Linked DNA regions of Homo sapiens. The protein of the gene in region 1 purifies or fractionates together with the protein of each later gene. This does not show direct contact. Each region holds a gene or a part of one and is shown on either strand. Other genes may lie near its edges.

Region 1 (4,719 bases):
ACATCTCACTGTGAACCAACAGTGTTGCTAGGGAAACTGATAATTATGTGGCAAAATGGAGGGTGTAGAATAGAAAAAGGGTTCAGATGAAATGTAAGGTTTTGATCCAAATCAGCATGTTAATAGTATAGTGTGTTGATCTTCTGTAGTCATATAATTTAATAAACACCATTAATTATATGTTTGAAAAGATACAGATTTCTAAACTGAAAGAAATGAATAGAAATGAAAAGCTACTAGATACTGCTCATACTTTGAGTATGCCACAGCAGGAATATGTATTTATTATATATAAACTATAATTTTTTAAAAATTAAAATATTCAAAAAGGTAAAAAATTTGGTTTGATTCCTGATGTTTTTCTTTAGATATCAATCTTATAGTGTTCCAGGTATAAAAATTATAATTCCATAAGAGCTCAAATAAATTACTTTTTTGGCTTCAAAGACTAAACCATATAGTTTCAAAACAGGCCTTAAAGTGGTGAAGAAGGAAATACTACTTTTAAAATAATATGCACAGTAATATCAACCCAGAGAAGCTAAATACTCTTCCTGAAGTCACACAGCTCCTCACTTAGTCGTAATGCTAATGCTAAATCCTCCTCTTTCAGCTGCCTAAGAGGCACTATTTATAAATTACATCCTATTTAGGGAAAACCCATTAGAAGGATATAAACCCAGTGAATGGATTCAAATCTCTAGATATCATTTTAATTTTAAATGAAGATTTCTAATCCTTTCCATTTTTAATGGCTAAGAGCTTAGTTCTAAAAGTTCATGATAGGATATAAACACTTGCTTATCAGGAAAACTTCACTGGAGACAGTTTAATATGTGAGAAAGATCACGAAAAAACTAAAAAGCCCATTATAACAGGGTTTTACTGCACGTCAAAGTGTTGCCTCTGAGTTGTCGGTCCTGTCATGACAACCCTGCTGCACCACATTCTTTTATTTTCATTTTCCAGGGACTACTATGTATATATTTAAAAAGATGAAGCCACACATTCCTGTGTATTTATCTTTATAATTATTATGTGTTTTCTAATTTGCAAATATACCACAGATATTAAAACAGTCATTCATGTTCATACACGTGCAATCTAAGAATGTTGTGTGTGTAAGAACATAAGTAATTTATTTATGGTTGGTGTATGAATGAAGATAATCATTTATAATACCAAATGTTTCCAGTGTTTTGGTCTTACTTGGTCTTTGACATGAAAGACCTAAGAAGTATACACAGTACACCATGGTAAAAGCACAAAACTATATGGACTTCGTTAACTACATGAATCTCAAGTGCTGAAAGCAGCAGTCTGCCTTCTGATATTATGAAAAAGATCTTTATTCTAGTGACTTAAACATTCTAAAGCTTGGCTGGGCGCGGTGGCTCATGCCTGTAATCCTAGCACTCTAGGAAGCCAAGGCAGGTGGATCACCTGAGGTCAGGAGTTCGAGACCAGCCTGGCCAACAAGGCAAAAGCCCACCTCTACTAAAAATACAAAAATTAGCCAGACGTGGTAGCACATGCCTATAGTCACAGCTACTGGGGAGGCTGAGGCATGAGAATCGCTTGAACCTGGGAGGCGAAGGTTGTAGTGAGCTGAGATTGCACCACTGTACTCCAGCCTGGATGACAGAGTGAGACTCTCAAAAAAAAAAAAAAAAAAAAAATCTAAACCTTAGTCATTAACACATAAGTAGTGTAGTTCATCCTAGATAGGATGAACTACAATTTGTAAGGCAGTTTATTAAATCTGTCAATTGTATGATGATTTTAAAATAGTATTTGGCTTATCTTTAGTTGTGATTTGTTAATGCTACATATTAAAGTATTTATTTTTGATAAGACGAGAGCTAAAATGATTGACTCCTATTTTGATAAGCCTTTTCTTCTTTCCCATAGTAGGAAGGTATTTCCAACTTTTAAATCTCTGGGTCAGAAAAAGAAAAATAAAAGGCCAAATTACACAGTCATCAAAAATGATTTTTGTGGTTGGGTTAAACAAACCTTGACTTAGGCCATCTTGGCAAGATGTCTGCTTGCCATCCAAGTTCTCCATGGTATCCCCTTTAGAGACTTCACCAAGAGATGTTCTTCTCTCAAAGATGTTGTTATTATTGTTAACTTGAGTCCCATTTTGCTTCAGTAGCCTGAATACCTCAGCTTCCAAATCTCTAATCTAGGAAAAACAAATCCATTTATAAAACTCTAAACTAGCGCTCCCCTCCAAGTACAGCAAAACCATCTTATTATTTAGTGTCTTAGGGAACACAACTTACCCGCACTTGGAGGCCTTGCACTTCCACAAGATGAGCTTTTTCCAAATCTTCTATTTTCTTTCTTTCTGCTTCCTGTCTTTTGATGAAATCAAGCTCTCTTAAGAAGAAAATAATAGTTCTGATTATATCATACACTCAATAAATGAAAGTTCTTATCTGAAACAATAAACTGCATAGTAGGATAAGCAACTGAACAGTTATTTAAATGGACAACATTCAATCAGTTAGAGGAAAAAGTATAGTAATGAAAGAAACTAAAACATCTTTAATGGGTCACAAGGCAAAGAAAAATGATTCGATTCTGCTTACTATAATTTTCTTTCGTAGCTCCTGATTCTAGAACACCCATACATATTTAGATAGGAAAGACTGCACTAATGACCCACATTGGGTAATTTAGTGGAGATAATTACTTGTCAGGTAGAAATAATTCCATTTTTCCAATGTCATAAGCATAGTATAGTAAACTGATGTAACTAGATAAGAGTTCGAAAAAGATAATTGTAAGATTTCTATGAATAACAGTGAAGAGGGGGCTGGGTGGGTCAGAAACATCGAGAGGGGCACTCACTTATAGACCTAAGGATAATATGGGGAGAAGAGAAACAGTTCCATTTTGAAAACCTGGAATAGAATATGCAAATTTAGCAAAATTTACTATAAAATTATTTCATGAAAAAGAGTTTGGCAAATAGTTAAAACAGTGATGTATTGAATTTATAGTCACAGAGAATAATTACTCCCCTTTTAACAAGAAACTTTTGATAGCAAAACTCTTTTAAATATTAAAAACATTCTTCCACATAATAGGAAATAAAAGAAATATGGTTAATCTTACATATATGCTTAGCTTCTGAGGCTTGGCATGGAAGACCAGAAAAGGTACTGGTACTACTTATTTGTTCTAACTAGCCAGAAGTAACTGATGAAAAAAATCTAGTAAAAATCTCCGTGGTCAGTCTCCGTGACATTACACCGAGATCCAAGAGATGGAAGCAAAGGAGCAGTAGCTCAGAAACAGCTGTTGAAAATCAAAAGCAGAATGTGGTAATGGTCTCTCTCCCTGCAGTGAAAGGAGGCCCTCCTGATTCTCTCAACAGCTGAGAAATGCAGAGTGGCAGGGCAGGGGGCCTTGCTAGTCGATATGTGCACTGTCTGTAGTGGGAAATTCTGTAGTTACTGATCTAAGAATAGAGAGGAGCAGCCTGATTCAGGCCCCAGCTGTGGCTTGCGTGCTCCACATCCAATAGTCAGTCATTCTACATGACTTTCCGCTGGGCTTCTTGTTTCTAAATCATAGAGGTGTTTCAAAAAGAATAAAGAAATTCAGATGTTTTAACAGTTATAAACAACGATTAATTATCAAAAATAGCAAAGAGGCCCTGGCAGCCAAAAACTATAAAATATACAAAACATAATCTCATGAAAAAGTGATAGAAGTGACTTCCAAAACTTAATGTGTATTTATGCTGTAACTATGCTCCTGGATAGGAAAGATATCTCTAAGGTCATCTTTTCTGTTCCACTAGATATTACAAAATTATTGGACATAAACCTTCTTTAGACAAACATAACTATTCTTTAGTTATTAGAAGCGGCTTACTTTTGTTGAAAATCCTTGATCAACTTCTTTGCCTTGTTGTATTTCTTTTCCAAGGCCTGATACTGGCTTTGAGTCTCTTTGAGATGCTCATTCACTGTGTGGCATAATGTTTGGGCCTCAATCCAGTAGCTTTCCAACTTCAACATTCTTTCCTTATTCTCTTCTATGTTTTGTTGGAGTTGGGTTTTTTCTAGTTCCCACCTCACTTTCTCATTTTCTGCTGCCTGCAGCTGGAGAAAGCAAACGTCAAGGCAAAGATAATTTGGCCACTTTTGTGGCAAAAATCTCTCATTTTTATAGCATGTTGTAGATCAAGTTCTATTATCATAAACAATCACTGAATCCACTTGAGATGAGAAAAGCAGGTATTATTTTTATAATTCCACAGATGATAAAATGGAAGCCTTGAAAAGTGAAATGATTTGTCCAAGGTCACACATTTGATAAGTGATAAAACATGGATTGGATTCCACCTCACACGATATTTCCATCACACCAGGTGATCTGAAATTCTGTGAGCAGTAAAAGATGTTTCAGAGTTTGATATATCCAACGAATGTCAACATGTTTTGAGAGTTTTTAAAAAATATATAATTATATATAAAAAATTAACTAAAAAGGGAGTGGAGAGGGCCAGGGAGGAGAGAGGAGTTAGAAGCACAGTATGGCTTAATGGTTAAGAGGGGATCTCTGGAGTCATTCAGCATGGATTTGAATCCCAGTTCTGTCATTATTGGCCATTAAACCTTGGACATGTAATTGAAGTTCTCCAAGACTCAATTACATCATCCATACAACAGAATTGTGATATAACACATCAGAATGCTT
Region 2 (5,037 bases), on another chromosome or scaffold:
CGATCTCGGCTCACTGCAAGCTCCGCCTCCCGGGTTCACGCCATTGTCCTGCCTCAGCCTCCTGAGTAGCTGGGACTACAGGCGCCTGCCACCACGCCTGGCTAATTTTTTGTATTTTTTTGGTAGAGACGGAGTTTCACCGTGTTAGCCAGGATGGTCTCAATGTCCTGACCTCGTGATCCGCCTGCCTCGGCCTCCCAAAGTGCTGGGATTACAGGCGTGAGCCACCACACCCGGCCGAAATTATGTCTAATTTTAACTTGTATTTATTGGATCACTGTAGACGTTCAGTTCTTGGCCATTTTTGTGAATTTAATTGTTTATTTTTTAGATGTTAATGTTTCGTTGATATGTATAAAATATTTATTTAAAAAAGGTAGTGTCTGGGCTGGGTGCGATGGCTCATGCCTGTAATCTCAGCACTTTGGGAGGCTGAGGCGGGTGGATCATTTAAGGTCAGGAGTTCAAGACCAGCTTGACCAACATGGTTAAACTCCGTCTCTACTAAAAATACAAAAATTAGCCAGGTGTGGTTGTATGTAATTGTAATCCCAGCTACTCAGGAGACTGAGGCAGGAGAATTGCTTGAGCCCGGGAGGCGGAGGTTGCAGTGAATCGAGATCGTACCACTGCACTCCAGCCTGGGCGATGGAGGGAGACTCTGTCTCAAAAAAAAAAAAAAAAAAAAAAAAAAAGTAGTGTCTGTCATATTAGGGATATTTTTCTCAATTTGATTTTTACCTTCAACATCCACTTAATACACATTTATCTGAATCTCCCCCATGTGCCAGGCACTAGTCTAATCATCAAGGATGAAATAGACACAGTCCCTGCCCTTAAGGATCTTACAGTCTAACAGAGGGAAGCTGGCAGATAAACAGTGACTGCAATAAAATTTTCACATCCTCCACCAGAAGTACAAATAGCTATAGCGGATGCACTAAAAGATGTGAGTGACCAATTGGACATGTAGGGGCCAGGAATAGGCTTCAGAGACGATTCTTAACTAAGAATAAAAAGCTTTACTAGAGTGACAAGGGACAAAGTAGGAAAGGCATTCCAAGTAGAGGAACACCTAAAGATAGGGCGAGAGAGCTGGTTAGTGGATTTGGGTTTGGCTTCAATATTTGGGTTTGAGGAGTAAAATGTCAAGAAAATCCAGTGGAAGAAGGGGCTGGAGAGACCTCAGAAGTCACATAATTTAAAAAATTATACATAACTTTTTGAGTAAGCTTTCCCTTTCTGATCTTACATAATGTTTAAGATAAAAAAAAAATCCTTCCTAGCCCCAGAGATTTGATGTTTACCTTCATTTTCTTCTAGTTTCTGTTTACATTTAACTAATCTATCAGGAGTTGACTTTGGCATATAATGGCAAGCTTCATTTGAATCTTATTTTTTCTGTTTTAATGTTTATCTGTGTGGTTCACTAAGCTTCTTTCTGTAACCTTATTTTGCTAATGGGTAAAAACAGGGGGTGTTAAATATCTAATAAAGAGTATTTATGCCCAGGTGGGGACAATGCTAAGAACAACAAAAGAAATTTCACTGGTGTTTTCTATTTTAATACTTAAATACCAAAAGGGAGCTGTGCCAAACATCACGGGTGCAGATATGCAGGCTTTTAGGGTCCTGGCTCTCAGAATACCACTACTACTTTGTATTCATAGACTGAAATTTTTTGAGGAGCCAACCATGTTTCCACAAACAGTAATTTATTCAAACGATAACTGAAGAGGGGAGAGGGAGGATAAATATATCATTGCCTGCTTCATTTGTTTACTACTACCAGAAATTAGGTGGAGTCAGGCTTCCTCCCCTGATGCTGGCTGGAGATTGAGTGGGGTTGGCATCTCTGTGCTGTACAGGCCAGACACTGAGACAGTTGACAACTGAGAGCTGTGATTGGTTAGAAAGGCAAAAGTAACCCGACCAGATTGGCTCTGGACTCCCCCAGATTCCCCTGTTGTTACTTCATAGCATTCTGAAGACCTGTCCACCAATTACAGGGCTCCTTACTGGAAAAACCAACTGCTGGGGAGTGCCAAGAGTCCCTAGCAACACCCTGCAGCGTTTGAAATCTGAGGGGAAAAGACTGTAGTCAGCCCTTAGTGGATGAGAGCGCCTATGCTCCAGAAACAGCAGGCTCCCAGGATGGACACCCCGCCCCCTGAAGAACGCTTAGAGAAGCAAAATGAAAAACTGAACAACCAGGAAGAGGAGACGGAGTTTAAGGAACTGGACGGTCTGAGGGAAGCCTTGGCAAACCTCCGGGGACTGTCAGAGGAGGAGAGGAGCGAGAAGGCTATGCTTCGCTCCCGCATTGAAGAGCAGTCCCAGCTCATCTGCATCCTGAAGCGGAGGTCAGATGAGGCCCTGGAGCGCTGCCAGATCCTAGAGCTGCTCAATGCAGAGCTGGAGGAGAAGATGATGCAGGAGGCTGAGAAGCTCAAGGCCCAGGGTGAGTACAGTCGGAAACTAGAGGAACGCTTTATGACCCTAGCAGCCAACCACGAGTTGATGCTCCGCTTCAAGGATGAATACAAGAGTGAGAACATCAAGCTGAGGGAGGAGAATGAGAAGCTGAGGCTGGAGAATAGCAGCCTCTTCAGCCAGGCTCTGAAGGATGAGGAGGCGAAAGTATTACAGCTCACAGTCCGGTGTGAGGCCCTCACTGGGGAGCTAGAAACGCTGAAGGAGAGGTGTGCTCAGGATGCCTGCCAGGCACAGGCGCGCGAGAAGGAGCTGCTGGAGCTACAGAGCCAGCAGGCCTGCACCCACACCAAGGAGACAGAACAGCTGCGCAGCCAGCTGCAGACCCTCAAGCAGCAGCACCAGCAGGCTGTGGAGCAGATAGCTAAGGCAGAGGAGACACACAGCAGCCTGAGCCAGGAGCTGCAGGCCAGGCTGCAGACCGTCACTAGAGAGAAAGAGGAGTTGCTGCAGCTGTCCATTGAAAGGGGCAAAGTGCTTCAGAACAAACAGGCAGAGATCTGCCAGCTTGAGGAAAAGTTGGAGATAGCAAATGAAGACAGGAAGCATGCGCTGGAGCGGTTTGAGCAAGAGGCAGTGGCTGTGGACAGCAACTTGAGAGTCAGGGAGCTTCAGCGCAAAGTAGATGGGATCCAGAAGGCCTACGATGAACTCAGGCTGCAGTCTGAAGCCTTCAAAAAGCACAGCTTGGATCTTTTAAGCAAGGAGAGAGAACTCAATGGCAAACTCCGCCATCTCTCTCCATAGGGAAGTTTCTGCTTCCTCTGGCCTGCAATTCAGAATTCAAATATTTGCGTCTTAGCATTATGGCAAGAGTAAAGATGATATCCCATTTATTATACTTTCAAGCACAAAAGGCAACTCAAAGAAAAGCTACTTTACTATGATATTGTTGTTATTATTGTAAAGCCATTATTAATTTTCATTTCTACACCTAGAATACACAAGATTTGCCAGATTTCCTTCTGTGCCTTAGAAATCTTAAATTTACTAGTAGTATCTTCTCCTACCCATAAGTTATTAATTCTCAACCTCAGATATCTTCATTTATGTTAGGATTTTAAATTAGCAGCTTCTATGATTTAAGTCAATCTAAGTGCAGTGAGATGTGCCATTGTGAAAAATAATTAGCACAATTACCCACTGTAGATAGTTAGGCTTATAGTCTCCCATAGTTGAGATTGTAAGCAAACATGTATCAGCATAATAGCATGAATGCTTTGCAGAAAAAAAAAAGTGTCTGACTTTATTTTATTTTGCGCTAGCTTGGAAAATGATTGAGATCAAGTTCTTTAACAAAGAAGGTCAATTTTATTCTGTATGAGCAATATGATTCAAATAAGTTATACAAAACAACTTTTATTTTTTCTGCAAGCTTAGATAATATTCCATTTTTTGGTTTTCTCTTTAAAAAGAGGATTTAGATGTGCAATAATGCAAATATCAGTAGCTTAATTTAATATTGCACGATATGCTAATAGACAATTAGACAATTTGGGGTAACAAATCATAGCAGACGTGATCTATAGAGTAACTCAGAAATTGTTTTGTTTCTATTAGCATATTTTTTGTAATTAAGATTTTCCTTTTTTAAAAAAATCTAAGCTGAACGTGTGTATGTATGCTTGCAGCATTTTTGTAGTAATACCTACATTTTGTAAGAATAGTTATAAAAACATGATATATATATATGTAAAGTTCTTAAAAAAGTTCTCAAAGGTAGTTATATTTTCTTATCTTCCTGTAATTAGGTATTGATATATAAACATTATTATGAATACCTCTCAAAATAGATTGTAATGTAATATTTTTCTCACCCATTTTGCTGAAGGCTACCAAGTTACATAATGAATTTACTTAAAAAATATGACTTGGTGCCTTTTTAGTAAAACCATTTCCAAGCAAGTGTTACCTTGCCTCAGGTAATTTTTTACACCCATTTTTTCACACTTCTATTAAGATTATGCTATTAAATACAAACTTTTCTCATCAAAATAGAAACCACACTGCTAGCTTCAAAGGACTATTTACTTCCTTCTACAGGTTACCAAGAATCAGAATATAGGAGCTAAGTTAATCATGGATATCCTTTATTGAGCCCATACTATTTATCATTGCGCTGAAGCAATTTGGATGAATTACTTTATTTAATTCTTAGGACTATTCAAGAAGGAAAGCGTGTTCATTTCTATTTTAAGGAAGAGGAGACTGGTTTTGGTAATTTTGCTTAAGGCCAGTTGGTCACTGGGGGAGCTGGATTTTGATGACTACAGCACACTGAAAGATAATTTTTGGCGACCAAGTGCCAGGTGCTGGGGTAGGCACTAAGAAGAAGCATAAAGAAGCATTTTTACTGCCCTGGAAGAGCCCCCATACAGTCTAAGGGCAAAAATAATAATAATAATTATTATTATTATTATTATTGTTATTATATACTGTGATCACAGAGGGAAAACATAGGCAGCATCTAGCCCTGCCTGGTGGTAAGGGTTGGGTTGGCGGGGAGGACTCCTAGGGATGATTAATTTCCTCAGGTGGAGAAAA

What was found.
Region 2: the proteins of PPP1R9A (region 1) and CCDC89 purify together in Homo sapiens (co-immunoprecipitation; one large-scale study listed by IntAct). This does not show direct contact.

Annotation. Positions count from the first base shown.
Region 1 is NC_000007.14:95,249,428-95,254,146, reverse strand, and holds part of PPP1R9A (neurabin-1), read right to left. Parts: intron 4,122-4,719; coding exon 3,892-4,121; intron 2,386-3,891; coding exon 2,289-2,385; intron 2,189-2,288; coding exon 2,017-2,188; intron 1-2,016. UniProt on the Homo sapiens protein: Binds to actin filaments (F-actin) and shows cross-linking activity. Binds along the sides of the F-actin. May be involved in neurite formation. Inhibits protein phosphatase 1-alpha activity.
Region 2 is NC_000011.10:85,683,209-85,688,245, reverse strand, and holds CCDC89 (coiled-coil domain-containing protein 89), read left to right. Parts: upstream 1-2,050; 5' UTR 2,051-2,115; coding exon 2,116-3,240; 3' UTR 3,241-4,398; downstream 4,399-5,037.